4 linked regions of the Homo sapiens genome follow. The protein of the gene in region 1 interacts with the protein of each later gene in a biochemical or structural test. Each region holds a gene or a part of one and is shown in the gene's direction. Other genes may lie near its edges.

What was found.
Region 2: the proteins of IBTK (region 1) and BTK form a complex in vitro, tested with the Homo sapiens proteins (2 studies listed by BioGRID).
Region 3: of the proteins of IBTK (region 1) and PRKD1, one has a biochemical effect on the other in vitro, tested with the Homo sapiens proteins (one study listed by BioGRID).
Region 4: of the proteins of IBTK (region 1) and PRKCB, one has a biochemical effect on the other in vitro, tested with the Homo sapiens proteins (one study listed by BioGRID).

What each region holds. Positions count from the first base shown.
Region 1 is NC_000006.12:82,244,228-82,251,738, reverse strand, and holds the start of IBTK (inhibitor of Bruton tyrosine kinase), read left to right. Parts: upstream 1-3,994; 5' UTR 3,995-4,177; intron 4,178-7,511. UniProt on the Homo sapiens protein: Acts as an inhibitor of BTK tyrosine kinase activity, thereby playing a role in B-cell development. Down-regulates BTK kinase activity, leading to interference with BTK-mediated calcium mobilization and NF-kappa-B-driven transcription.
Region 2 is NC_000023.11:101,376,079-101,383,754, reverse strand, and holds part of BTK (tyrosine-protein kinase BTK), read left to right. Parts: intron 1-5,731; exon of another isoform or gene 5,732-5,896; intron 5,897-7,676. UniProt on the Homo sapiens protein: Non-receptor tyrosine kinase indispensable for B lymphocyte development, differentiation and signaling. Binding of antigen to the B-cell antigen receptor (BCR) triggers signaling that ultimately leads to B-cell activation.
Region 3 is NC_000014.9:29,924,491-29,932,261, reverse strand, and holds the start of PRKD1 (serine/threonine-protein kinase D1), read left to right. Parts: upstream 1-4,414; 5' UTR 4,415-4,749; coding exon 4,750-5,013; intron 5,014-5,165; exon of another isoform or gene 5,166-5,296; intron 5,297-7,771.
Region 4 is NC_000016.10:24,181,703-24,189,378, forward strand, and holds part of PRKCB (protein kinase C beta type), read left to right. Parts: intron 1-3,408; coding exon 3,409-3,489; intron 3,490-3,757; coding exon 3,758-3,865; intron 3,866-7,676. UniProt on the Homo sapiens protein: Calcium-activated, phospholipid- and diacylglycerol (DAG)-dependent serine/threonine-protein kinase involved in various cellular processes such as regulation of the B-cell receptor (BCR) signalosome, oxidative stress-induced apoptosis, androgen receptor-dependent transcription regulation, insulin signaling and endothelial cells proliferation.

The sequences.
Region 1 (7,511 bases):
GAAGCAGTATAAAGGGAATAATTGCTAGGAAAGGCCATCCGGAAAGTCTTCACAGATATGTGGGGAGGTGACCCTCTGTAAGTAAGGATTGGAAAGATAATGATTCTATAGGAAGAACGCAGCTGGGACCATACACCTGAATCCAGAAGAACACAAACACCCTATGTGGCCTATTGTTTTGTCTGCCTCACCCTGCTTTCTTTTGGGGAACTACTCTTCACTCTGCTTTAACCATGACTCTAATAGAGGATGTCAATCATGTTATCCTTGATTCCTCACCTAATCCAAGCCGACATGAGTCCGTCAGGTGCCTAGAACTTTTGTGCTTGAGATAATAGGCTCAGTGCTATCTTCCCTAATGGCAAACCTGAGGTGAGATATGTGATTTATGTGAGGTACTTAATTTGTGTGCCAGAAAGTTGTAGTCAACCAGTGATGTCCTGTAGAAGATGGTGTGGAGTAGAAGAGAATGAGGCTAAACAATAAGGTTCCAGTCATCTCTAGGCCAGCTGCACTATTGATCTTCCTCTAAAAATCATTCTTGTAGAACCTAATCAGGTTTGGGTTTCTAATCAAATTCTAGTGTTTTCTCTTCTGCCACCAGCACTGTCATTTCCTACTCCTATACAACTTGAAAGACAGCAAAATACACATAATGATGTCAGTACTTTTAATTATAAAGGATAGTACTACCAATTTATTTTGGAAAAATGGTATTTAGGGAGTTTATTATAGATGCCATGTGGCTTAGAAATATTTCTGCAGTGCTCCACTCTTGATGCCTGTACTATTCTTTTTCTACTCCCTCCGCCCATCACTGCAATCTTTTTATTTATTTATTTATTTATTGAGACAGAGTCTCGCTCTTTCACCCAGGCCGGAGTGCAGTGGCGCTATCTTGGCCCACTGCAATCTCCACCTCCCAGGTTCACGCCATTCTCCTGCCTCAGCCTCCCGAGTAGCTGGGACTACAGGTGCCCGCCACTGCGCCCGGCTAATTTTTTTTGTATTCTTTAGTAGAGATGGGGTTTCACCGTGTTAGCCAGGATGGTCTCGATCTGCTGACCTCGTGATCTGCCTGCCTCGGCCTCCTGGGATTACAGGCATGAGCCACTGTGCCTGGCCCATCACTGCAATCTTTTAAAGTCATCTCTGGTTTTTTTATTTTTTACTTTAAAAAATAAAACTACTTTAGAAACTCTAGTCAATTATTTTTCCAAACTTTGATTTTTTTAATCATTCAAGTAATATTTAAATTATTGCAATGAAAATTACAAAAGTCAAAATGATAGAAATTAAGAATCACCCATAATCCCACCATAGAAACAATCATTGTAGATATATTTTGACCTATTCTTTCATGTGTAAACACAAAATTTTTTTAAAAATCAAACAAAATGGCTCATTTTGATTTCTTCCTCCCTTAACCACATCTACAATATATTTTTCATTTAATTGTATTTCATTTGTACTATTTCCTAATTATTTTAATATTTTGTCTTGCAAATAACCAGTAAGTACTTTTGAAAGCATCTAACTTTCCTGGGAAAAGGGGAGCAATTCTACATTCCTTTGACTGGAATGTTATTTCTTTCCTGCTTCATCTACTTATCTCCTCGTTATCTAGTTATCTGAGTTATCTTCTGCTCAGTCTTTAGTTCATGTGTCACATCTTTTGGAAGTCAGATAAATCTATCAGATTAATACTTATAAACGTTGCAATTTATTATGCTTGGGAATATCTGGGTCTACATGTATTTTTGTTCACTGTTGGATCCCCAATGCTTACCACAAATTGTCCGAGACCTGGTAATTTTAACTTTTATTTATTACTATTTTTTGAGACAGGATCTCACTCCGGTTGCCTAGGCTGGAGTGCAGTGGCGTTATCTTGACTCGTTGCAGCGGCGTGATCTTGACTCACTGCAGCCTTGATCTCCTAGGGCTCAGGGTATTCTCCCACTTCAGCTTCCTGAGTAGCTGGAATCACAGGCGTGCGCCACCATGCCTAATTTTTTTTTTAATTTTTAGTAAAGGCGGGGTTTCACCATGTTGTCCAGGCTGGTCTTGAAATCCTGGGCTCAAATGATCCACCTGCCTCTGCCTCCCAAAGTGCTGGTATTACAGGTGTGACTCACCTTGCCTGGCCGTAACTTTTAAATTAATGAATGCCTGCTTGGACTAATTCAGCCACTAAGGAAATACTTTATTCATTAGCACTATTTATGAAGTATTATTGTGTGTGACTAAGGCTCTCTGCTAAGTGCTATATATCTCTATCATTACATTTTCACAACCCCAAAATACATTATTTCTCCCATTTTGCAAATGAGGAAACTGAGGCTTCAGAAAAGTGAATTAACTTGCCCAGATACAAGAGAGAGAAGTTACGAACTCAGGTCAATGCATTTATTTACACTAGCAGCTTTATTTGCCATTATTGGCTTCTTTGTTCATGAATATGAAAGTCATTATATGTAGCTTCTTTTTTTAAATATCTGGAGATACAACTTAAGCTTATTTTCTTTCTTTTTTTTTTTTTTTTTTGAGACGGAGTCTCACTGTCACCCAGGCTGGAGTGCAGTGGCTCGATCTGGGCTCACTTCAAGCTCCGCCTCCCGGGTTCACGCCATTCTCCTGCCTCAGCCTCCCCAGCAGCTGGGACTACAGGCACTTGCCACCACGCCCAGCTAATTTTTTGTATTTTTTTAGTAGAGGTGGGGTTTTACCGTGTTAGCCAGGATGGTCTCGATCTCCTGACCTCGTGATCCGCCCGCCTCGGCCTCCCACATTGCTGGGATTACAGGCGTGAGCCACCGCGCCCGGCCAACTTAAGCTTATTTTCAAAACCACTCAATTTTGACATTACAAACTGGTTTTTGTTTTGTAGAAGGACATTAAGAATAAAGAGCAAAGAAACAATTATGTGCTGGGAAGGGCAGTAGGAGGGCTGGGTCCTAGTCTCCCTTTCTCTTTCGCTAAGCAGCTGTGTGGCTTTGGGCTAGTAACCTACCCTCCCACAAAAAAGGCTTCAAAAGAGAGCAAGCAGAGCTCAGTGGGCATTAAGACATGCGCAACTCCTTTCTTTTAGAGATTAGATGAGGTCGACTCAGTGGCTTGTAAAACTCAACGTGGCAGAGCTGTACAGCCAACTCATGATTCTTAGTGTCGTTTGTTTTGAGTCACACTACACCTCCTTGAACAATCATTTACTGAGTGCTTACCGTATTAGGCATTCAGCAGCAGTGTGTTTCCCATTCAGTAACCTAGTATTGATTATTGGCTACTGTCCCTCCTAGCATTTTTCACTTGACCACTTTCTAAATGGCCTTTAGATTCAGAGTTCAAGTGGAAAAAGCCTAGTGTAAGCCTGGTGTCAGGCAGTGAGTGGCGTGACCCGGGTCGGCAGCTAGTCCTACGGTGGTGATCTAAGAGGGCAGTGACGCCTTCTGACCAAGGGAGTGACTGCCAGATAATCCGGGTGTATGGAGATCCAGAGAGGGGTGAGGCTGGGTTTACGGAGACTACACCTTTGGCTTTGCAGTAACCCCACTGCTAAGGCCATGGGAGGAAACTCTTCTGTGCAGGACGCCTATGCACTTGGCTTCTGCTGCGTAGCGACCGGGTGTCCAAGGCATCCTGCCAGGTCTCCTTCTCCACTCGGGTTTAGCCTCCCCCGCGAGTCTCCAGCTACCTAGAGAGACGTTTCTAACTACGAGATGGCTGGCCTGAAAGGGACACTCCCATCACCGTTGTTGGCCTAGAGTTCCCCGCTGCGGCCTTTTTCTTTTCCCCGCCCCTGGCCTGAGTCAGCGGCCCCAAGGCCGGCGAGGTCAAGTTCCTTTGGGGCGCCAGGGAAAAGGCCATGGCAGAGGTGCTGCCACGCGAAACCTTCTGGGCAGGCACCAGCCAATCATCAAGAGACATACAGGAGCCCCAGCCAACCAGCGCCCGCCTTATTACTGGGAACCGCCCGCTCGGGCCCTTCCTCTACATCCCCGTTCCCGATTCCTGTAGTAGCGGCTGTATTGCAGCCGCCTGCCGAACTGACCCGGGTCTGGGGACTGGCCCCTCTGGCGCCGTTCGGTTTCTCTTATTGCCTTCACTGAGGATGAGTCCCTTTGTGGCTCTATGTGGACCCTGCGGAATCCACCGGCGCAGTTTCATCTAGCGACTGGTGAGGGAGGGCTTGGCGCTGCCCGACCGTGCGGTGCGGCTTCCCTTCAGCCCGGGGGCAGGGGGAGAGTATTCGCCTTCTGGAGGGTGCGGGTGGCTGCGGACGGCGGCGCGGGGGGACCGTGGGGAGGGGACTCTGTGGCCCCGAGGCTGCCGGGCTTCGCGCGAGGCGGCGCGGAGAGGGCCGAGTGGCCAGGGTCCCTACCGCCCCCCTCAGCTAATGAATGGCCTGTCCCGGCGATGCGCTACGCTCCCGTCCTGCTGGACACGCCCTCCAGCGACATTGCATTCCTAGTTGTGATAGTTATGTAGTGTCACTTTCCTTCGAGTCTTGGATTTGAAGCCATTCCTGTGGGCGCTCATGTTCCTTATCCCCTTCCTGGAGTCACAAGTTTGAGTCCACCCTGGGGATACTGACTCTGGGGAAGCAGGTCGTGAAATCTGATAAGTGGACATTGATTGCTATGTAAAAAGGAACTGATTCTTTTTGGAGGGTGGAGGGTTGAGAGAGACAGAGAAGACAGGCCCTTTGTTTTTGTAACAGGCAGAGCTGTCTGGCTCAAAGAGTTTTAGTTCAGCTGCGAATTAGGTAACATAGGCCGTCCTTGACTCCTGTTTTCCAACGTAGTTCATAAAACTTGACTGTGTTAGCCAGAGATTCATGTAGCACCTTTTAACTTATGCCTCGAAGTAGGCCATTTGAAATTTATCAGAAATACTGAAAGGATATGACTTTTATGAGTAGTAGTGTTTCAGTGCCCATAAAGTGGTGTAAATTCACAGGCTTGCCAGCCCCCTCTTGATCATTTCTCTTTTTGTATTTTGAATTCCTTAACTTTTATTTGTTTTAGAAATTGAGGCAAGGTAGATGAGGACAAAACTGGTTTCTAAAAATAATTACATTTGCAAATATTTGCAGAAGCTTTAGTCAAACCAGAGTTTACTTCAAGAAATTTTTTAGGCCGGGCGCGGTGGCTCACGCCTGTAATCCCAGCTACTGGGGAGGCTGAGAATTGCTTGAACCCGGGAGGTGGAGGTTGCAGTGAGCCGAGATCGCGCCGCTGCACTCCATCCTGGGCGACTGAGTGTGGCACCATCTCAAAAAAAAAAAAAAAAAAAAAGATGCCTGTAATCCCAGCAGTCTGGGAGGCCAAGGTGGGCGGATCACTTGAGGTCAGGAGTTCGAGGCCAACTTGGTGAAACCCCGTCTCTACCAAAAATACAAAAAAATCAGCCAGGCATGGTGATGTGTGCCTGTAATCCCAGCTACTCGGGAGGCTGAGGCAGAATCGCTTGAGTCTCCAGCTGCCCTACCAAACTGCTTTTGAATTCAATTATTTTGAATTGAATTCCATGGTACTTTTTTCTACTACACTATACTACTTGCATTGAAATTTTTCTAACTGCCTTTTGGGAGAGCAGTTTGGTAGCATAGAATAGGTGGGATCAAGAGCACTTTTCTGTCGGTATTATTTTAGGTAGGCTTTTTAAACTTTCACATGAATCTCCTCATCAGAAAATGAAAGTGATCATATTTACAGGGGCAATAATAAGGATTATATTTATGTAGAGCACTGTGTATAATGTATAAAACAAAATTTCACCTATAATTTTTGTGTGTTTTTTCCGTTGTTTAATTTTGTTTTGCTTTACTCACTTCCAAAGTATTGACCCCTTACTCTTCTTTCTAGTTTCCCTATCTGTTCTCCAAGCCAGAAACCTGGGAATTACCACCACATCTTGTCAATTCAAGATCCTAAGTATGTCTTTGGATTGCCTGCCCTTTTTTTTTTAAATCTCTAAGAAAAGGCACATAAGGCTGTTCAAAATCCTGTCTATCCTTGTGTGTATGTTAGGCCTCACTTCTTTCTGTCTTCTGAATTATTTAGAAATTTTGGAATGGACCAAGATGATTCTAGTTCTTTTATATTTACTATCCCTTCTGCTTCAAATGTGCTCTCACCCAGAATTTATCAGGCCAACACATATGGTACTCTTTTTTTTTTTAGAAGGAGTCTCGCTCAGTCGCTCAGGCTGGAGTGCAGTTGCATGATCTTGGCTCTCTGCAGCCTTGACTGACCAGTTTTAAGTGATCCTCCCACCTCAGCCTCCAGAGTAGTTGGGACTACAGGGATGTGCCACTACGCCTAATTTTTGTATTTTTTTTTGTAGCGATGGCTTTCACCATGTTGCCCAGGCTGATTTCAAAGTCCTGGGCTCAAGTGATTTGCCTGCCTCAGCCTAACAAAGTGTTGGGACTACAGGCATGAGCCACTGTGCCTGGCCAGTACTCATCTTTTAAGTCTTAGTTTATACATAGTTTATCTCCTGTAGAAAGTCTTACCTGGACCCCTCTTCTGCACTCCCCGTTCCTATGTGTCACTTGTTTTATCTTGACCATAGGTTTATAATTATGATATGTTTTAGTTACTTGCCTAAATAAAATTACTCTCTTCTACCAAACTGTGACCCTTTGATAATAGGAACTGTGTAATAGATCATAAGTTTTGTTCAGTTAGTACATATGTTAAACTAGCTATGCATCCACCTGAGTATTATCCATGAACCTGTATTTTATTTTATCTAAAATATTTAGGTCCTAATTATTTTTGTATTCCCAATGCCTTGTGACCTACTATGGATGCGCTGAAGAAGACAGTGTAACGTAGCAGAAATAGCACGGACCTCATCATTAAACAGATCTGTATTTGAAGTCTGACTCCCTCTTTTCTTGGTGGTATGATTTAGGTGGTTTACTTGACTGGTCTGATGTAAAGCATTCCGTATGTATTAGGTCTTTAAATGCTTATTTCCTTTGCTTTCTTCCCCTTCTTTAAGCAGTTTTTGAATGCATAGATAAGAAGTACAATAGGCATTGGAAATATGGGCCTGGAGTTTAGGGCAAATATGTGAGCAAGAGACAGATTTGGGGATTTATAATCATGTGTACGGTAGAGTTAAAAGCATGAAAAGGATTGAAACTATCAGGAACAATATGAAGTAGAGGACTGAGGATTATTTCAGAGAAGCCCAGTTTGAAGGACAGGGGAAGCGATAATGCCCTAGGAAGAAGTGGTTAAGAGAGAGAGCCCATGCTTAAATGTTTCTGCGACTTCCTGCCCTTCCTGGATCTCTTTTAGACTCCTTAAGGGAATGAGGTTTTAAAGACATAAAAGCAGGGAAGGCAAGTAAGAATTGAAAATATCTAAAAGTGTTTGGTAATTTGGAAGTCATTAGTAACTTTAGCAATAATGATTTCTTTGGAGAAGTGGTAACAAGTGATAATGAAGCTCAAACATGAATTTTGGAGTTAAAATGTATTACCTTTTTATGAC
Region 2 (7,676 bases), on another chromosome or scaffold:
AGTTCTCACAAGATGTCTTTAGGATTATATTGGTTATTTGAATCTCAAGGAGAAGCTCCTCTCACTGCCCTACCTCCCTGAACTGAAAACAAACTGTAGTCTGTTAGCTCACCCTAGAAGAAGGAAATTCTAGAGTCAAGAGAAGTTAAGTTTTAGACAAGCTGGAAGTTGGAATATACTGGAGTTTAAGATCATTGACTCAATGAAAAAAAAAAAAGATTTGTCTGCAGTAAAACCAGAGTTTTAAAAATGATTAGAAATGGACCAGAAAAGAGATAAGGATAATGAGAAAGGGGGCTCTCTAAAACTATTTGGAACTGAAATTGGGACAATGTTTCTGGAAACTATTTTGGCAGTATGTATCAAAATGCAAAATGCACATACTTTTTTGACTCTGGAAATGATGCTTGTATAGAGATCCTAATAACATGGGAAAATAATTAGGAATAATGTTAAATAAGAACATTAGATCTTTTTTTGGAAAAAGGTACCTTGAACGGATGGATGGATGGATAGATACATACATACATGCATACATACATACATAGATGTTACGAAAAATAGGTAAATTAACTGAATGTGCAATATGATCTCAAATATTATAAGAAACACACACAGAAAAAAATGGAAGGAATATGCCGATATATTAATGCCTCTGGATGAGTTTATGAATGATTTTTTCTTTTTTATATCCCTGTACTTGACATATTTTCTACAATAAGCATGTTTTATTTTACTATATTTTGTTTTATTTTGAGATGGGGGTCTCCCTATGTTTCTCAGGCTGACCTTGAACTCTTGGGCTCAAGCAATCCTCCAATATCAGCCTCCTGAGTAGCTGGGACTACAGGTGCACCCCACTGCACCCAGCTGCGTGTGTTATTTTGATATCGATGGAAAAAATAAATAAAATGTTTAAGCCAAGGAAAACAAAAACTAGGTTGAAAAAGAAGGCCAAAAGGGCACACAAGTCCAGAGTGAAAGACAGACACCCCAGCAGTCACCCTCAGAGCAGAGGGAGAATATTGAAAGTATTACCACTGATCTGATCTGGCACTGACTATAAACTTGCAGATTGGCTCTCTGGCTCTCCTTCCATCATCAGTTGGCCAGAATATATTGTCGCTAATGCAAGACAAAAAGAGATGATGAATCACAGAGACCTAGAAGTTTCCAAAACCACAGAAGAAAAATGTAAAATGCTAAAAACATAAGGCCAGGCGCGGTGGCTCAAGCCTGTAATCCCAGCATTTTGGGAGGCCGAGGCAGGTGTCATGGTGTGCGGCTGTAGTCCAAGCTACTCAGGAGGCTGAGGCAAGAGAATTGCTTGAAACTGGGAGGTAGCGATTGCAGTGAGCCAAGATTGCGCTACTGTACCGAAGCCTGGATGACAGAGCGAGACTCTGTCTCAAAAATAAATAAATAAATAAATAAATAAATAAAACATGAACTGCTGTGGAAGAACCAGAGAGCCCTAAGGCCTCCTGTAAATGACTACAGCAGGAGAGTTTCCCTGGTCAGCATGCAGCTTTCGAAAATTGAGTTTGGCTTGATGCCTTCATCACAAATTTGGTCCCCTGTAGCCTTGACTATGAAGCTTATCATAAAATAATTGGGTTTCACTGGGGCCCGAACAAAAGCATCTTGGGAATTTAACAAGATTAAAGGTTGCTTTGTTGCTGTGGGTATGATTTTTTTTTCTTTTTTCTTTTTTTTTTTTTTTGAGACGGAGTCTGACTCTGTCACCCAGGCTGGAGTGCAGTGGCACGATCTCGGCTCACTGCAACCTCCGCCTCCTGGGTTCAAGCAATTCTCCTGCCTCAGCCTCCTGAGTAACTGGGATTACAGGTGCGCGCCACCACGCCAGGCTAATTTTTGTATTTTTAGTAGAGACAGGGTTTCTCCATGTTGGTCAGGCTGGCTGCTCTCAAACTCCTGACCTTGCCATCCAGCCGCCTCAGCCTCCCAAAGTGCTGGGATTACAGGCATGAGCTACCACACGTGGCCATATGTAAATTTTAAACATGTAAACCAATACTGTATATCTTTTATAGATATTTACATCTGTAATGATAATATGAAAACGTACCTAGGAATGATAAACACCAAATTCAAGATATTGGTAATCTCTAAGGAGGGAGAAGACTAAGATTTTGGAGTACATAAAGGGGTCTTGATTATATAGATAGTATTTCAGTTCTTAACACGTTCTCTTCTGGTCCCAAGGCCAAGGAATTCTCAATTGAAATCTCAGTTAGAACGTGAAGGATGCTTCTTGGGACTGGGAAGAGATTTTCCGTAGGCCAAATTTAACCTCCCACTAGAGATAGTTGATAATTCTACCACATTTCATAGTGAAGCATCAGGAAGACAGGACTGAAAAGGCAAGAAGGAATGATGCAAATTGCATAGTCCAAAAGATAAGCTGGACCTAGGTTTGCCAGTTTGTCTAAGTAACTGAGAATTCATTCTGAGATCAAAAAATCAAAATAATGTTCACAGCAGCATTGTTTATCACTGAAAGCAAACAACCTAAATGTCCATCAACAGGAGAATGAATAAATATATTGGAATGTATTCATCATATAGAATATTTTATGCATATAAAAATGAATTAAAACATATGAAGTAGAACTAGCCAGATAAATAAATCCTAACATATTATATTGAGGGGAAAAAAGCAAGTTGCTGGAGAATGTGTACCATATATATATATATAAATTTTCTTTTTTTTTTTTTTTTTTTTTCGCGACCGAGTTTCACTCTTGTTGCCCAGGCTGGAGTGCAATGGCAAGATCTCGGCTCACTGCAACCTCTGCCTCCCGGGTTCAAGGGATTCTCCCGCCTCAGCCTCCTGAGTAGCTGGGAGAGTAGCGTTGGCCCAGCTAGTTTTTGTATTTTTAGTAGAGACAGGGTTTCTCCATGTTGGTCAGGCTGGCTGCTCTCAAACTCCTGACCTTGTCATCCACCCGCCTCAGCCTCCCAAAGTGCTGGGATTACAGGCCTGAGTTACCGCACCTGGCCATATGTAAATTTTAAACATGTAAACCAATACTATATATCTTTTATAGATACTTACATCTGTAATAATAATATGAAAACATACCTAGGAATGATAAACACCAAACTCAAGATATTGGTAATCTCTATGGAGGGAGAAGACTAAGATTTTGGAGTACATAAAGGGGTCTTGATTATATAGATTGTATCTCACTTCTTAACACGTGAGGCAATATGGCACAATTTTAGGATTTTGTAGAGCTAAGCGGTGAGTCCAAGATTGTAATGTTATAGTCCCTGTACTTTCTATTTGAAATATTTCATAATATAAAACAAAGTATATTTGAGGCCAGGTGCAGCAGCTCATGCCTGTAATCCCCACACTTTGGAAGGCTGAGACAAGAAGATCACTTGCATCCAGGAGTTTGAGACTAGCCTAGGCAACAAAGTGAGACCCGTGTCTCTACAAAAAAATTAAAAATTAGCTGGGTGTGGTAGTGCACACCTGTAGTCCCAGCTACTTGAGAGGCTGAGGCAGGAGGATCGCTTGAGCCCAGGAGGTGGAGGCTGCAGTGAGTGGTGATCTTGCTACTGCACTCCATCCTGGGTGACAGAGTGAGACCCTGTCTCAAAAAAATAGAAGGTATATTTGATCAAAGTTTTATATTCACAGTAAGCAATAAGAACCCTAGGGACAGAGAAGGGTGGATGTTCCACCTAAACACTGTGCTTTCATTCCATCAACAATGAAACATCCAGGAAAGGAAACAACAAGTGACTCTAGAAATTCACTAGTTAGACAGAATCTCCTTGGGAATGATTTAAAGAGGGAAAATGTAAGAAAACCTGGCAAGACTAAGAAGAGTCCTCAAGTGCAAAAAAAGTATAGTTGACAGTTACCAGAGACAGATCATCCTTACCAGCCTGGAGGAATATTGCAGAGGAAAGAGCTTAGGATCTTGAATACTCTCTTATCTCCTGTATTTACCACCATTTCCTCTCTTGCTGAACATTCCTAGAAAATGGAGAGGAGTTTGTCACAACTGCTCTTTGATGATAGCCATGGAGAATGACAGGGGCCCCAAGGCAGATGGCATCAACCTCATCAAAGACCAAAAAACAAATAAACGAACAAAAATCCCTCCGGTAGGCAGTGAAACACCACAAAAAAAGCAAGGGCTATAGATGATATACCAAGAGCTACAGATGGATGAGGTTGGACAAGTCACATAACCTCTGTGTCAGTTTCCTCATCTGTTTGTTGTGAGGAATAAATGAAATAATGCCTGTAAAATGCCTGTCAGGTAGAAGTCACTGAAAGGAACAGAAGTTCCATTCCATCCCCCTAAGGAAAGACAGGGAATGGCCAGAATCTTCCTAGCCAATTGAGTAGTGCTTTCAAGGAGAAATCAAGAGAAAACACTACTTCTTGGATATTTTGGCTAAGTAGTCATTTGAAGTACAGTTGACTGGTTATTTTATTTTAAATCATATCTCATAGACTCTTCCCAATCATAGGCTGGCTGTGTAGTTTTCTGAATTTTGCTCTGGTATTCTTCTTCTTTTTTTTTTTTATTTTTATTTTTTATTTTTTTTTTGAGACTCCAGGCTGGAGTGCAGTGTCACGATCTTGGCTCACTGCAACCTCCGCCTCCCGAGTTCAAGCGATTCTCCTGCCTCAGCCTCCTGAGTTGCTGGGACTACAGGCGCCTGTCACCACGCCCGGCTAATTTTTTGTATTTTAATAGAGACGGGATTTCACCATGTTGGCCAGGCTGGTCTCTAACTCCTGACCTCAAGTGATCCGCCAGCCTCAGCCTCCCAAAGTGCTGGGATTACGGGCATGAGCCACTGCGCCTGGACTTATTATTCTTAATAGTATTTTATCTTATGAGCGAAGATAAGAGCCCAAGATGGTTTAGTTTACTGATTCTGCAAGTGCTATTTCTATTAATTCCTTGGCATACTGCAGTTTGTATGATGGCTGCACTCTTGTTAATAAGCTTCGTCTTTCTGAATTCTGTTGCTCCATAGGGAGCTGGGAGGCTGCAAAAGGTGGCCCTGTAAAAATCTTTGCATTTATAATTTAATAAAGGGGACATTGTAACACTGGAACTCCATATTTTAAATGAAGAGCTCTGTGTCTATTTTTTCTCCTCCCCCATTTCTTTCTTTCTATAAACAACAGTGGTGTGTGTGTGTGTGTGTGTGTGTGTGTGTGTGTGTCTGTATGTTTGAGACATTCAAGTCACTTCCATTTCCACCCTTCACCCTGAGTGGAGCTCAGGGTTAGCCATCATTGTGCATATTTTGTGGTCAAACCGACTCTGTAGGCTACTGAAATTGTTTTAAAAAAATTGGGGCCTTTACTGGCCAGGCACGGTGGCTCATACCTGTAATTCCAGCACTTTGGGAGGCCAAGGTAGGCAGGTCACCTGAGGTCAGGAGTTCAAGACCAGCCTGGCCAACATGGGGAAACCCCACCTCTACTAAAAATACAAAAATTAGCCAGGTGTGGTGGCACACGCCTGTAATCCCGGCTACTTGGGAGGCCGAGGCAGGAGAATTGCTTGAACCCAGGAGATGGAGGTTGCAGTGAGCCAAGATCGTGCCACTGCACTCCAGCCTGGGCAACAAAGCAAGATTCCGTCTCAAAAAAAAAAAAAAAAAATGGGGCCTTTCACAATAAGTACCCACAGAAGCTTTACCCTCTAACTACTTTTTAACTCAGAGCTGTGTGTTACACACCAACCTTCTGGAGGACTCAAAAATGGATCCCTTTCCTTTCACATTATTGAGTGATGGACCAGTGGCACCTAAGGAAGAGCTACCACATTTTCAGGCTGTGTGAGTCTGGACTGGATCATAAGAAACAGGAGAAAAGCAGTCAAAGAAGGTGGTACCAAATCATGGCAATTCTGGTAGACCTCTAGCTCAATGATCTAGAGGTGGAGGCCATTTCACCTTTTGCTCAGAGGGGCGATGGCTAGTGAGAGACTTGCTTACTTCCTCATAGTCAGAGCAGCACTAAACCCTGCCCAAACACAGATACTTGAGAGAGAGGAAGACTTCCTCTTGTACAAACTGGATTTGTTCTAAAACAGAGAAAGAGTAGAGGCAGCTTCCAGAAGGACCTGTCTTATAGGAAGTAAGAGCAGGGGACAAGAATGAAACAGATGGTGGGTCTAAGCAGGGAATGTATCCACCAAGAGCCTGCAACAAAACTAAAGATAAAATGTTGCCTGCGATTTATTCGGCTAAGAGAAGTACACCAGACATGGTTTGTTGGGATGCTTCTGACCCCATTTACTGGTCACAGTACTCAATTTATTTAGGGTTTTATTTTTTATCCTGTAATTTGAGTCTTTGATTGTGAAGAGGTACTTAATTATAATTTGCCACAAGAATAATTGTGGTATGATTACAGGGCTCTCAATGAGTTGGTAGTTCCTGAGAATAGAGTAGTATTATTTGGTTACCACTACTCCTGAGTAAATGCATAATTGTAATGTTAAAATGAACCTCTTTGAGTTTAGAGCTAAAACTGAGTGTTGGGAAGGGCTGATTGTAAACTCATCAATTTGTCACTCCAGTGAGAGACCATTTAAACCAGGGAGTCAGGGTGTGTGGCAGGGTGGAGGGAAAGGTTTGCACTCTTGCCCAATTTTTCTCAAAATCTAATTTACAAAATATTGAATTAATCCACCTCCAGAAGATAGTGGCATACACATGGTAGATAAGTGGCAAAGCGATCTTCCAGAACACCCCTGGTGTTCCTTTGACGTATTTTCGTCTCCCCAGCATGAGAATAGAACCTCCTACACCACAGGAAAGAGCAAAATAACAGTGTGGATAGCCCCCAGGCTTTGATAAAATTCACTCCCTTGCTTTCCTAGTGTGAGCAATAATCTGCTTAAAAAGTAGAAAAAAACTGCTGGCTTTATTCATTCTGCTTCCACGGTGCCACCAAAAGCATAAGGAGTTTACTTAAAAAATAGACACATTCCCACCCCCACCCCCCCACCAGAGGAAAAATCCCTACCACTAATTAAACTTGAATGGAGGGCTGGTGGTTTTTTCGTTACTTACTTAGTGTTTTTTTGTTGTTGTTTTTGATTTTGTTTTTTGAGACGGAGTTTCGCTCTTGTTGCCCCGACTGGAGTATAATGGCACAATCTCGGCTCACTGCAACCTCCGCCTCCTGGGTTCAAGCGATTCTCCTGCCTCAGCCTCCCGAGTAGCTGGGATTACAGGCATCCACCACTACGCCCGGCTATTTTTGTATTTTTAGTAGAGACGGGGTTTTGCCATGTTGGCCAGGTTGGTCTTGAACTGTTGACCTCAGGTGATCCGCCAGCCTCGGCCTCCCAAAGTGCTGGGATTACAGATGTGAGCCACCGCGCCGGCCTAGTGTTCTATTTTTATGACAGCATTTGTTTTCACTTTATCTTTCCAATGAAAGTTCGGAATTAGTAATAATATTACACTGTGCATAAACTGTAAGTGAATAACTGATATGAAGTGTTGCTTGGTGTGAATAAAAAAGCCAGTGGTGACTTTGGGAACTTTATTTGTCTTTCTGTGTTTCAGTTACCTAAATTGAATCCTTCTGGAGTATTGTAGGTTTGGGGAGGCTAAATAAGTTGTGTTTCATAAATGAACAGAGGTGGCATCTA
Region 3 (7,771 bases), on another chromosome or scaffold:
TCTATCCATCTTTATCTTCATGCACATAACATCCAGTGCTCAATAATATATAAAGGAAGGATATACTGGAACCATACTTTCTCCCTCAAATCTCTGATTTCCACATTGGTATATAATTTCTGTAATCCTCAATTTCTTAAGCTGGCAAATGTTTGGACGAGGGGATATGATCCTTTCAGCCACAGATTTGCACTTTTTTTTTTTCTCACTTTCCTTTCTCTGCTGTCCATTTAATTTGGACAAAGCATACAGTGAGTGAGGCTGAGTGCCACTCAAATCAGGTTATTCTCAGCCCTTTTTCTGATTTTTGTGAATTATTGTATATTTCCAAAATGACTTGAACATACAACTATCTTTTGAAGACAACCTGACAAGATTAACATTCATCGTTGGAAATTGTTGGAAGTACCTCCACGTAACTCTGCATACCCTTGCAGGTCCACATCACTTTTATGTGGGCATGAAACTTTTTTTTTCTTTCTTTCTTTTTTTTTTTTTTTAATTTGAGATGGAGTCTTAACACTGTTGCCCGGGCTGGAGTGCAATGGCGTGATCTCAGCTCACTGCAACCTCCGCCTCCTGGGTTCAAGCAATTATCCTGCCTCAGCCTGCCAAGTAGCTGGGATTACAGGTGCCCGCCACCATGCCCGGCTAATTTTTTGTATTTTTAGTAGAGACAGGGTTTCACTATGTTGGCCAGGCTGGTCTTGAACTCCTGACCTCGTGATCCGCCCACCTCAGCCTCCCAAAGTGCTGGGATTACAGGCGTGAGCCTAGGCCTAGGGCATGAAACTTTCTTACCCTTGCAGGTCCACATCACTTTTATGTGGAGTCTTCATTAGGGCATGAAACTTTCTTTACAAAGTGGTGCTCCCAGTCACTGCTAGAAGTCCCTTATTCTTGTCTTGTTAGCCAGGATTAAAATAATGAAAGCCCATTTCATGAATATAATTAATATAAGCTACTATTCACTTTCTATATCCTCTTTTCTTTTCCAAGATTAAAACATCCAGAAGAGATTAAAACCAGATTTTCCCAAATCCTTCAAGTTTTCTATGTTCAATTTCAAAGTTGCCAGAGATATACACCAGGTTTATTATAGATATTCTCTGTTTATTCATTCCCTTGTCATTCAGCAAAAGTGAGCAGCAGTTGGAAAACTGTTAGATTTCAGGTGCCTACAATAGAAATTGCAATAACCAACTCCATGGGAATTTTCTGTTTGCGATGGGGAGGTCCAGTAGATACACGATTTTTTTCTTCTTGTTTTTCTTTATTCACTCTTTTGCATTCAGTAATATTTCACCGTCTTAAAAGTAATGTTAATTCTCTAGGGCATCTTTAGAATTCCTTCTCCTGTTTCCTTATCAATTATTTCCAACACCCTACATAAATCTTTCATACTATTGATAAATCATAGTCTAACAAGAAGTTATTCATACTTTTTTTAAAATTCCTGTAAGTCTCATAACTGATAAGTACTTTAAGCTCTTTCTCTCTAGAGCTCTCATCTAATCTCACATTGAAATGCCTTCTGCACACTGAGAAGATTTCTAAATGTATTTCTGACCCTCTTCTCTTTTCTGGATGCTGGACCCATATATCCAGCTCTAGATGCTATTTCTAAGTTGAATATCTAGCAGCATATCAAACTCAACATGGTCAAAGTAGAAATCTTATTTCTCCCTGAACTTGCTCACTCTCTATCTTCTGTGTCAATTATTGGCACCACCATCAGTCCAATTGCTCAGAAACTTGGGAGTCTTTTGTGACACCCTTGTTCTCTCACTCCTTGTAAATCTCTGACTCATTCAGCAAGAACTTCCGCCAACATAGAGCCTGCAGTTTCCCATTTCTTAGCATCTCTTCTACAACCATAGGAGTCTAACCCGTGTTTCTAGACTCAAAAACAGCAATAGTCTCCTACCCAGTGTCTCCACTTTTACTCTTTTCTCTTATATTCCACACAAAATCCAGAGTAATCTTTTAAAACATGCTAATTAATCTTATTATTCCCTGCTTTAAAACCTTCCAATGGGTTGGTAGTGCACTGAGAATTGAAATAAAAACACTTTACCATGGCTTTCAAGACTCCTGGTAACCTGGTTTCTATTAGCTCTCTGACCTCATCTCACGCACTTGCCCCTCTTTTCCTATGCCTTGAAAATGTTAAATATATTTCTGTGTTAGAGTCTTTGCACTCTCTGTTACCTATGCCTACAATGTTATTCCCCTAGTTCTTCTGAAGTCTACCCTTTCTATCATCCAGATTTTGGCTCAAATGTAAACTTCTCAGTGAAGTCTTCTCTCATTCCCAGTCCAGAGCAGTGCCCATTTCTTCATCCCTCCTCCCACAAGTCACTGTCTTCGCCATTGGGTTTAAAAAATTCATTGCAATTATGAATATTAGAAATAATATCATTTGTGGTTTTACTCCATCCCCCCTCCCCTTTTCACTGTGATCTTTTTAGGGCAAGGACCACCTGTCTTCACAGCTGTGCAACTGGTGCCAGTACAGTGCCTGGAACAGAGAAGTCCTCAACATGCAGTTGTGATATCTATAAAACATGAATGTCTTCAGCGCTCTTGAATCTCAAGTGAAACTAGCTTTTTGTAAGTCTCTTGTAAACTGACCAGCAAGCTTTTTTTTGATAATAGAAAACTGTGGAATATTAACTTTATTCTGATTTCAAAGAAAATGAAGTATAGTTTCGGACATTTAAAAGAAAAAAACCTCCTTCAGAATTCAGAAAGGCATTTCATCAAGAAAAATTCCACCATTTTCCTAGATTAGCTGAGTCTAGAACATTAGGAAAATTACCTACCTGTATCAGGGATGAAGAGGACCACCTCATAAGTAACTATGCAGGGAAAATGTAAACACAGGTAGACCTTATCAAACCATCACATTCAGAGAATAAATTCAAGTCTCTTCAATGCAGTTGTGCAGCCTTGCAGTGTTTGGGGCTCCATTACTGACCCTGGGAACACGGTTCTAAAGGAAGCTACCTTGCAATATCTTGGGCCACAACCAGAAGTTAAGACAATAAATAAATAAATAAATAAATAAATAAATAAATAAATAAAACAGAACAAAATAAGCTATACAAAATACAAAATGTTTGTTTAGGTATGTTTGTGTGTACTTACGCAGAGGAAGGGGAAAGTCTAGGGAAGTGGCGAAGAGAGAGGCAAAGCTGACTACATTATCTGCGTGGCCCATTGCAAAATACAAATGTGAGACTCCTTGATTAAAAATTATGAAGAAGAACAAAACAGCGACAGTAGACTATTGTCCCAGAATATTAAACCAAACACGGGTCTTATGAGCTGTGGCCTATACAACTGCATAGTCGCACACCCATGAAGCCCACCCTGGTTGGAGGGGAGAATTATAATTCATCTCCAGCGAATGTAAAGCAATCCCCACCCTGCCAAAACAACAGTAAAAATAAACGGCGATCCAAATTAGGGCAGGTTGTGCCCAATCCTGATGGCTGTGCTTGTGATGACGGTGGCGGTGCTGAGGTGGACTTGGGGGCACTGCTCCTATATAACAGACTTTAGATTGATAGAGGAGAAGGAAAATAGTTTCTGAAGCTCCAAAGTAGAAACTTCAGGCGCAAAGAATAAGGTAAAGGAAAGGAGACCGCATCAGACCTCCCTCCTGCCCTTGGGCAGTCAATGCCTTTTCTTTCCAAAGCGACCCTCTCCTTAGATCACTGTGTATATCCGGTGCCTTAGGAGCTGGGGTGGAGTACGTAGGTTTGGCTGTAAGGGCGCGTCAGAGCGACAAAAAGGGTAGAGACAAGTTTAAACCCCTTTCTGTGGAGTGGCTTCCTACCCTCTTTGGCCACAAACCCCAGGGCTCCCAGAGGGGCCTGGATGTAAGTGGGTTCCAGATGACCCATCCTCCCTTGACCCTCCGAAGGTAAGACCCAAGGGGAACCGCTGTGATCAGCATTCTTGAATTCCTCAAAAGTCACCTCACTTGTAGAAGTGCGTAGTCCTCCAGCATTTGGAAGAGGTGGCAGGGACCTTGGGGCCCGGGAAGTTCGCGACCCCAGGAAGCGGGTCTGAGGCGGTGCACCCCATCCACTCCGTCCGCAGTCGGGGCGGGGCAGCGGGACCCGAGAGGACGGGAATCCCTGCAGGGAGGGAAGGGCCGCGCCTGCCGAGGCGGCTCCGAGCCCCGCCACTCGGTCCTATCCCGGCTCGCGGAGGCTCAGGCCCCGGGAACTGCGGGCGGAGGGGGCGGCGACCGGGCACCCTGCGGCCACTGCGGCCGCTGCTCCTGCGACTCCCGCGCCCGCCGGGTGGTGGCTCCCCAGTGCCCGCCCCCAGCTCCCCTTCCCCGCCCCTCACGCCCCCTTCCCGCCCCGGCCCCCGCCCGGCGCTCGGGCCGCGCCGACCCGTCGCCCCGTCCTTCCGAGCGCGCCAGGCGGCAGATTCTTGGCGGCGGCGGCGCCTCCCCAGTGCCGGCGGCCCCGAGCCGGCTGCCGCGTTCCGGGCCTCAGAGTCCTCCCGCCTCGGCCATTTTCCCTCCTCCCCATCTCCTCCCCTTAGTCCCCTCCCCTCCCGATCCTCATCCCCTTGCCCTCCCCCAGCCCAGGGACTTTTCCGGAAAGTTTTTATTTTCCGTCTGGGCTCTCGGAGAAAGAAGCTCCTGGCTCAGCGGCTGCAAAACTTTCCTGCTGCCGCGCCGCCAGCCCCCGCCCTCCGCTGCCCGGCCCTGCGCCCCGCCGAGCGATGAGCGCCCCTCCGGTCCTGCGGCCGCCCAGTCCGCTGCTGCCCGTGGCGGCGGCAGCTGCCGCAGCGGCCGCCGCACTGGTCCCAGGGTCCGGGCCCGGGCCCGCGCCGTTCTTGGCTCCTGTCGCGGCCCCGGTCGGGGGCATCTCGTTCCATCTGCAGATCGGCCTGAGCCGTGAGCCGGTGCTGCTGCTGCAGGACTCGTCCGGGGACTACAGCCTGGCGCACGTCCGCGAGATGGCTTGCTCCATTGTCGACCAGAAGGTAAGTCGCCGCACCGCTGCCAGCCCGGCGCCTCCCCGCGGCGCAGGGGGCGCTGCCCGGCTGGCCCTCTCCGCGCCAACTTTCCGGCTCCCGGGGCTCGGCTGGCCGCCAGCCTCGCCGGCGCTCTGGAAGCGGCTGGCCCCGCCGCGGCTGGACGCCTGCAACCCGAGGCGCTGCGCTCGCTGTTGCTCATCCTCCTCTCGCCCCATCTTCCTCTATTCACCGATTTCTCTCCAGTCCGCCGCCTCCTCACCCATTTCCATCCTTCTCATGACATTTCCAGGTATCTTGCCCTTTCCTCGCCGCGCCCCTCCTTGTCCTTGAGACTTCCCAGTTTTCTTCCCCTCTCTCCCCTACGGACCCTGGACCAGCGCATTCCTGGTGCAGGAATCCTCCTTCCTGCACCAGAGTGCCCCCGGAATGACCTGGAGACAAGGAATTTCTCACCTGTCAGATAAGCTTTTAAGAGAGTGTGATTGACTCGGCCAGTTGTCAAAACAACTGACCAGGAGTGCAGGTACCCAAGGCCTTGTCATCTTTTAGTTCCACTTCTGTATGAGCATGGAAACACATTTTCCAACGACAAAACCTGAAAGTTGCGACCTTCCTATTTTTCATTCCCGGGATGCTGATAGTAGGACGTTGAAGTGGTGGGGGTGATGTCCAGGAACACCCCGAGGCTGGCTGTGTCCTTAAGTTTGAGGCTGTGGGGCTCTGGACAGCGGCCACTGAAGGCAGGTTAGAAGGGTCATTATCCGGGGCCAGGCCACCCCCAGAGGAGACTCAGCCCACCCACCACTGTTTACAGTAGCAATTTGGATTTTCAGGTTGCCTCTGGAGCCATCCAGATGGATGTTGCATGGAAGGGGGTGATACAGACGTGAGGCAGAGGGGGCCATGGCGCCAGTCTTCTTAGTGTAAACAGCCAGCGTTTCAGGAGTGGAGACAGAGGTCTCTAAAGGTGCTGAATTTTTCAGCCCTGGAGGACTGGCTAGCACTCCTTTTGCTTTCTAATTATCACTTGAATAATCATGAATTGCTTTCTTTAAATTATTTGTAACAGAGTTTGCTAAATCTTAAGGGTTGTGAATTGCAGCACTGAGCACAGGAATGTTAAAAGCTCCAGGTGGAAAAAAATCACTGATCTAGAAAGTTGTGAAAGTTCTAGACTAAGGTAACAATGAGTGCCAGGAATTTATTTATGGAAATTTACTTTTATATTACGGGTAATGTCAACTGTTTGCAACTTCCAAGAAAATGACACGTTTTGTCTAATGCTGATGTAAGTCATATCATGCTCCTTTTCCACATCAGTATTGTGGAATGTCTATTGTGGGTCAGCAGGAGCACTCCTAGGCACTGTGAAAGCCTTGTATACAATCCTCTCCATTTGGATGCAGACCAGTTAATGAAACAGCAATGCTTCATAAGCACGTATACAATGTAAAACAAAATTTCTCAAAAAGCAAAGGTAATTCTGTACAATTTTAACTTTTCTAAATTCTAAAGCAAGTGAAGTAGTGTCAGAGAATATTCAAATTGGGTCAAAGTAATATTGATAGACTTTGTTTTGACCAGCTTGAATTCTCCCTCCACCCCGCCCCCCACTTCCTCCTGGAGTTCAGAATGGGGAGACTGATGCCTAGTTCAAGAGGTTTGGTAGTGGGATTTTAAATGGAGGGTGAATTCCAGGTGTCTCAGAAGCTACCAAGGGGCGTGTTACATGGAGAGAGTGAGACGAGAGCAGAGGGAGAGGGACAGCAAGCACCTATGGAATGCAGCAGGCCTGCAGGTGGTGGCCTGGGTATTTAAGGGAAGTACAGTTATGAAAAGGCCTTGAATTAAACTCAAATTGCTAGAAGCCTCAGTAATCTTTTCATAGCGACATCATACCAAGGACATCTGAAAGATGGATTTGCTGTATGGAGGTTTTAGAATGCCAAAAATGTTATGGCAGAAAGAGCACCGAAGTTCAGTCATGAGCTAGTTGGAACATGAGTCAAGACTTGGGGGAGAGACTGGGAGAAATACTGGAAAGGGAAAATCATCAGCCCTGATTGGTGACTGATTTATAAGGGGAATCCTTTCCTTTTGTATTTATTCTAGTAGTTTCTTCTCTCTCTCAAAGAAGTTTGAAAAGTTTGACTGTTTGGAATAGTTAAGGTAAAGATCTCACTTTTTTTTTAGGTTATAAAAAAGTTGGGGTTAGATTTATAGATGTGAACTTGAGGGTTATTTATATACAGAATACTGTAAATAAATATATACTGGATAGTGTTTCTGGACAGAGGACTTTTTCAATTTCTCTGTCATTTGTCATCTCTTTCAGAATATATTATTATCCCAGCAGAAACAAAATTAAGAGAGCTGAAGGTCCATCACAGGATACAGGATCTCTGTGTGTTGTGACAGTAGGAATGGCAGAGTGTCAGTGTGGAGTTAAGGAAGTGGGAGGGAGTTCTTTTGTCTTTTATTTCAGTTTTTTTTTGGAAGTACCTTATGAGGACGTCAGCTATGAGGAAGGATGACAGGAGTTTGGGGATTGGATGTTTCAGGAGAGAGCAGAGGGTTTGAAATCATTTACAATTTACTATGTGGGCTGAAGTCGTGTGGAACTTACAGCAGAAGGTTCTCCTGATCTTTCTGAGTCTTCCACATCTGTTGTTTTAAATGTGTTAAGAAGTTTTTCATTCACTTTGTTCAGGAGCTCCCTAAGTACTAACATAGATCATACGAGCATTGGAAATATTAGCTGACA
Region 4 (7,676 bases), on another chromosome or scaffold:
GGCTGCAGTGAGCCGTGATTATGCCACTGCACTCCAGCCTGCCTGGGTGACACAGTAAGACCCTGTCTCAAAAAAAAAAAAAAAAAAAAGAAGAAGAATGACAAATAACACTATGATACTATTTATGGATGAAACAGAAATACACAGAACACTGTTCTGTTTTCAATGAGTAAAAGCATACAAAAATCTGGAAGATTTCAAACTGATTTTATAACACTGGTTACCTCTGAGGATAAGGGAATTGTAAAGAGAAATTTAGCTATTTCTGTATACTGCTGACATTTTTTACAAGGTAAATGTATTTGGGTATTACTTGAGTAATAAAGTAATTCTTTAAAAATAATAAGGCTTTACTCGGACCCAGTGAAGTTTTCCCTATGTGATATGCTTTGGTCTATTATCATTTTGTTAATTAATTAGATAGGACACAATCCATAACACAACTTCCTGATAGGCCAGGGGTTCCATAATCTCTGGTTCTCAACTCTAACTGCAGTTTAGAGTCGTGAGGGAGCTTTTACAATGTAGGATGCAGCTGGGGCATGGTGGCTCACTCCTGTAATCTCAGCACTTTGGGAGCCTGAGGCAAGAAGATCGCTTGAGGGTAGAAGTTTGAGACCAGACTGGACAACATAGTGAGACCCTAATCTCTACAAAAAAAATTAAAAATTCGCCAGGTGCACTAGGTCACCCCTGCTGTCCTGACTACTCAGGAGGCTAAGGTGGGAGGATCACTTGAGCCCAGCAGGTAGAGGCTGCAGTAAGCAGTGATCATGCCACTGCACCCCACCCTGGGCGACTGAGCGAGACTCTGTCTCAAAAAAAGAAAGAAAGAAAGAAAGAAAGTGTTTCCACACTTTTAAAGTACTTCAAGTCTTATTTGATCCTCATGACAAGCCAACAAGTTAATCCTTTTACAAAGGAAACTAGAGCCTGGGATGTGACAGCAGTTGCCGAAGGTGATGTGGTTAGCTCATGACAAAGCCTGACCTGCTGCTTATCCCTCCCATCTGTGGGCTGGAGGGGAGGCAACTTCACCAGCCACACAGTTGAGGGTTTCTTGTGCTTGCCTGAATCACGACCAGCGAGGAACTTCTGAGAACCACAGATCCTGGGCCTCCACCTGCAGAGATTCTAATGGGATGATGCTTGGGCATCCCACATTGTTTCTTGTGTGTGTGTGTGTGTGTGTGTGTGTGTTTGAGACAGGGTCTCACTCTGTCTACTCACTGCAAGCTCTGCCTCCTGGATTCATGCCATTCTCCTGCCTCAGCCTCCCGAGTAGCTGGGACTACAGGTGCCCATCACCACGCCCAGCTAATTTTTTTTGTATTTTTTTAGTAGAGACGGGGTTTCACCGTGTTAGCCAGGATGGTCGCGATCTCCTGACCTCGTGATCCGCCCGCCTCGGCCTCCCAAAGTGGAAAACACGTTCAATGAGAAGTGTTCTCCTGGAATGCTTTCCCTTCCTTGTCTTGAGGGTTACTTCTCAGAATGCATTTCATTCATTCATAATTGACCAGTAAAATTGTATACATTTATCATGTGCAACATGTTGTTCTGAAATATGCATACATTGTGGAATGGCTAAGTTGAGTTAATTAACATATTTATTGTCTCACATACTTATTTTTTTATGGTAAAAACACTTAAAAATCCCTCTTAGCAATTTTCAAGAATACAATAGATTGTTATTAACTATGGTTACTGTGTTACACGATAAGTCTCTTGAATTTATTCCTGCTACTTAACTGAAATTTTGTATCCTGTAATCAACATCTCTGCATTTCTGATTTTGGAATAGAAATCAAAGTGGGAGATAGAGATCAAGAAACAAACATTCACTTTATAGCCAAGTTTGCTCAAATACCCTTTTTGAGTTAAACAAGCAATAACTGAATTATAAAACATTCTAGGATTAGTTAACATTTTGAGGGCATAATATGTGAAAGCCACCGAGTATCTCATTCATCCTCACATAACTTCATGATATAGAGATTATAGAAGTTAAGTAACTTCTCCTGTGGTCAGACAGCCAACCGGTAGACAGCAGTCAGGATTCAAAGTCAGACTGCCTAACCCTCAGACCTCAGCCTTTAGCCTTTGCTGTATTACCTCTTAACCTCTGACATGGTTAGTTTTACATCCCTGCATACTGAAAGATGGACAATCACATAGCTCTTCTAGACTTTTCCATGTTCTTGCAGTTTGGGAATATGAATTAAAAACTTCACAACCATATATACCATATGATACACCAATTCTACATCTAGGAGTTTATCTTAAGGAAATACTTGGACAGATGTCCAAATGTCTAATTACAAGAATATATGTTACAGCATTGGAAGAAACCTAATCAACTGGAAATTTATAAGATAGATTTTGGTATATCCATTCAACGGAATGCTATGCACAGATAAAAATTGATTATGTTCATATACAAATATTAAATTAGCAAGGAAAACTTAAGTGAATAACTGGCTTTATTAAAGATCTATTGCCCATAATCCCAGTGCTTTGGGAGGCCAAGATGGGAGCTTTGCTTGAGTTTGAGATCAGTCTGGGCAATATAGAGAGACCCCATCCCTACAAAAAATTAAATAATTAGCATGGTGGTGAGCACCTGTAGTCCCAACTACACAGGAGGCTGAGGTGCGAGGATTGCTTGAGCCCAGGAGGCCAAGGCTGTGAGCTGTGAGCTATGATCTCACCACTGCACTCCAGCCTGGGTGACAAAAAGAGACACTATCTCAAAAAAAAAAGAAAAGAAAAAAAGAAAAAAAATCGTCCAAATACTAAAGTGTTTATGTAAAGCACACACATACACACAGAGTTTAATATGTATTCAGAGAAAAGAGTATGGAATGAAGTAGACCAAATATTAGTCATAATTTTTCTCTTAATAAAGGATTATGGGTGATTTTCATGTTATTATCTCAGCTGAGCTATCTTTTATAAAGAAATATTAAAATAGTGACAAATGTTGTTATCTCTTAAACGTTTTTATGTTTAATTATGTTTTAAAAACATGTAACGTAAAATTTACTATTTTAACCAGTTCTAAGTATACAATTTAGTAGTGTTAAGTATATTTACATTATTGTGTAAATGTTGTAACTTTTACAGAGGAGTAAAGACAGTTTTTCCTTTTAAAAATTCCATGCTCACTGTTTTGAAAATAATAATAACAATACACCTTACTTAGTGCTTCGAAAAGGCAATGTGACAGCCACAGGTGTTTGCCCAGCTGCAGGTGCCTCTGCAAAGCATGTCTGTCATTCCCTGAATAGCTAATATAAAGAAACAGTTCAGGTGGGCACTGGCCTTCTTGTAAAAGAAGAGTGAAATCTGTCTCCAGAAGAAACATGAACTGCAAACCTCCCTGATAGGGTGCCTTCTCTTTTCTAGATAATTGCTTATCAGCCCTATGGGAAGTCCGTGGATTGGTGGGCATTTGGAGTCCTGCTGTATGAAATGTTGGCTGGGCAGGTAATTGAATTTTAAGTGATCGATAAGAGAAGTCCTCCCTACCCCCATCCACATGGTTTCTTTAGGAGAATGCATGTTTGGTAACAGCTCATAAATTGGAACCTCTATGACTTTCCCGGCCTTGGGGTCATACAAGTCTGTGGTCATTTGAAAGCCTGGGTGTGTGGCTTCACTGTGGGCCCCAGGGAGGAGGGTCTGCCAGTTGAGGGGAGCTAGGGGGAGGGTTCAAGCAGGGATTCTTCTCCTCCCACCCTCCCCTGTCATACAGGCACCCTTTGAAGGGGAGGATGAAGATGAACTCTTCCAATCCATCATGGAACACAACGTAGCCTATCCCAAGTCTATGTCCAAGGAAGCTGTGGCCATCTGCAAAGGGGTAAGTGCATCTCTTAAAGCTGTGACCAGGACCACCACATAAAGGCATGTGGGCTGTACCTTGCCCAAGAACACCCCACCAGGGGGGAACACAGCCTGAACTCCACCCTTCACTCCATTTGCCAATATGAGAACCCTGATGTGGAGCTGCTACCTCCCGGAGGAGAGAGAGCTTTTTTTCTGATTTGCACAGAAGTGCTGTAGAGAGCTGCCTGCAGCTGCGTCTTGCTGCTGGCTGGGCTGCAGTCTCTGAACCAGCACAGGGGAATGCTTATTGAATGAATGAGGTAGAAAGCACAGAGATTTTGTCAAAGAGCTGGAAGTCATGGGAAAGGGCACAAGAGGTCTTTTGCACAACTCAGGCTATCTTGCCCTGCTCTGCTGTATGTGTTTAGTTAATACTAAGAGCGTGCAACTTTTGTTCTAAAAAATACCACGCCGTGTTGAGGTTAAGGAATTCTCTAGATAAGCAGACTGAAATTCAATGTACTCAAAATCCCACTGTCTCCTCTCCCCAGACACACACACAAATGGCTAAAAGGGCATGCACGCTTGGACATCTACGGTTTATGCACAGGGCACCTGTGAAGAAAGCAGGATGTGTGTTTATGGGGAAGGATTGTTTGTTTTGCATCTTGTGTTGGACCAGGGCATACTCACAGTGACTTCTGTGAGATCCTAAAGATCAGCGACCCTCACCTTTGGAGCCATCAGAATAACCCGAAGTGCCTTACCAGAATGCACATGCTTCTGCCTTACCCCAGAGATTAAGTCTGGGTATGAGTATTTTGGAAAAGTCTCCATTTGGCTTGCAGACCACTGCCTTTAAAAATACTGTCCAAATGAAGTGATTTTTCAACTCTGATGGAAGCCTGAAAGCAATAGAATTAGACGCCCAGAAAATATGTTCTACACATAATATACTAATAAAGGATTTGCTCTCCCTCCACCCAGTGGTACAGGTTAGAACATGGCCGTGCCTTAATCAGTGGGTTCCCACCTGTGTGTCTGAATAAACCAGGGCTGCCAGTCCTAGATCTGTGGGATGCTTGCAGACTTTTCATGCCCTACTTTGTTCTTCCTGACCCCAGCCAGATGCTGGATGCACTGTCTTGGGTGAAGGAAAGCTGGGAAACTCAGGCAGGCCAATCTGAGGCTTGGCCCAGTTTGGAATAGCTGGGCCAGCCTCTCAGCCTAAAAGCGCCTTGTCACACTGCCTAAATTCCCACTCTCAATGAATCACCTAAGGTTTGCACCTCAGCTGCATAGGCTAAGATGCATGTATCCCTGGGGAAACCACCTGTGAATTAGTCTCAATCCCGAACATCTAAAGTGAATTGCTTGAAAATATTTTCTTTGAGGGTGTGAGGCAGGGAGAAAGAAAGTGAAGAATAGAGAGGGGAGTCCCAGAGGTGCATTAGGAACCCAAGCAAAGCCCATAAAGAAAAAAAAGGCACACACGAAGGCCTCCACAGGCCCCCGTAGACAAGTTATTGAAGGGTGGGGGCGGGTAGAGAGAAGGTGGTACCTGGAGCTTTTAGTTTGTTTAATAATTACCAGCATATAAGGATCCAGAGATTTCTCAAAAACATTCAGCTTTCAGGTTTCTCTTGAAAAATCAGATCTTGCCACATTGGCCTGTCATTCTTACAAAGCACCAGTCAGCTGGATTGGAAACCATGGCCCTCTGTAGTTGGAGCTTGCCCTCTGTAATTCTCAGACGTTCTCATTTGGCCAATTCTCTCCAAGTTCAAATCCTGGTTCAGGCATTAATTGCCGCAGGACCTTGGGGAAGTTGTTTGACGGCATCTGCAGATTGGGGATAATAATAGCACTCCACATTGGGTTCTTTGATGACTAAACAGCTGAATACTGTAAATCACTTAGAATAGAGGCTGGCACTCTGCTCCAAGCCCCTTGGAAGTTATTATTACTATTACTAGTGCTGACGCTATTGTGTTATCTGCCAGGTTCCTCTTGGCATTTGAGTTTGCATCCCCTGGAATTGCAACTTTTAAAGTAGGGGATTTTGGAGATCAAGGGACCCTTTGCAAATCTTGACCCTTCTACTTTCTAGGCACAAGGTGTTTTTGTTTTGTTTTGTTTTGTTTTGTTTTGTTTTGTTTTGTTTTATCAATGTCTCGCTCTGTCGCCCAGGCTAGAGTGCCGTGGAGTGATCATGGCTCACTGCAGCCTTGATCTCCCAGGCTCAAGGGATCCTCCTGCCTCTGCCTCCCAAAGTGCTGGGATTACAGGCATGGGCCACTGCACCCAGCCTAGGTGCAAGATCTTAAGCCACTTCCTTTGCATCTCTGGGCTTCTGTTTATTTTAAAAAATGGAATAGTAGTACTCATTGAAAAGAGTTTTTGAGAGCATTAAATGAGATAACATAAGAGAAAGCTCCTTGCATGATGTGGGCACATAGTAGGTGTTTAATACATCCACAGGGTCCTCCCCTTCACACGCCCGCCCTGCCTGGACAGCTGGGGGTTCTAAATGGGTCATGGAGGAAAGAGCATTTTCCAGGTCAGCTGCCTTCAGCTCCTGCTCCAATTAGCAGTTTCCCTGGTAGAGCCGTTTTCTATTAATTCAGGACCCATAACCTTCATGATTAACTGGGGTGACTCTCTTACTATTGAGTTTGGGGACCATTATTAATTGAGTGGGCTGAGTCCAATGGGGCTCTTCCTTCAAGGAGGGTACTCCAAAAACGAGTGATGCTCAAGCAAACAGCCAAATGCTTCCTCTGGAACAGCGAGCCCCAGGGGATACGTCTGGGAGGTGATCAGAGATTGGAACAGTGATTAAATCCAGCTGTCTACATGGCTTCGGGCACATTAGAGCAGAGTGCGGGAACTGGGCAGAGACTCCGAATTAATGCTGGATGTTTTTGCAGTACCTTTTCTTTGCTTGGCATCCTCCTGCTTAGACAGAAATTCAGTTGAGCTTTTGAAAACAGTCACCTGTTTAATTGAAGCAGTGTCCTTTATATGTCCATTCCCTTAAAGGCCCGATTTTCTACTAAAAAAAAAAAATTAGTAAAACCTTACTCAGATGGCTATTCCCACTTTGAACAAACTTGAAGCAAACAGAAGCCCAAATAGACAGGACCTTAGGGTGAAAACCAGCAGACACTGAACAGCTGAGACTGAACATAAAGCTATAAGAGTCCTGAGCCAGGCAGAGCTGTTCAAAGCCTTGCCCTGCTCCTTAGCTGTTTGACCTTAGGCAGATGACTTTACTTCTCTGCACCCACATCCTTTACCTGGAAAATGGGGGATAATAGTTGCTGAGGCCTTAGAGTATTGTTGCAAAGTTTAAAGAGTAATGGGTAATGGCCGGGAAGCCTTTAGCACGGAGCCTGAACGCATATGATGTTGTCATACTCAGTACACGGAAGCCGTTATTGATGTTATTATCAGTGTGAACCAAAACCTCACTGCCCTTTCTTTCCTCCCATCCTAATCTTACACAAATGTCAAGCCTTGGCTCAATTTCCTCACCCTCCATAAACCTCTCCTGACAAAGCCAGGCCACAAAAATTCCTGAGAAAACCACGTGTGAAATGCACTCCCATTTTTCTTAAAAGCCCAAGTTTTAGAGCTAGGCAGAGGTGGAGTCTGCACCCAGCTCTTACTGACTCTACCACTTCCTCTCTGGAGTCCTTACTGTTCCTCAACTTCTCTGAGTGTTCATTGCCTTTTTATTCAAATGGGAAAAATAGTATACTCACCTCATTGGGTTATTATGATGATCAGGGAAGCTCATGCATGTAAATAAAGAAGTAGCAGCTCGGCGCGGTGGCTCTTGC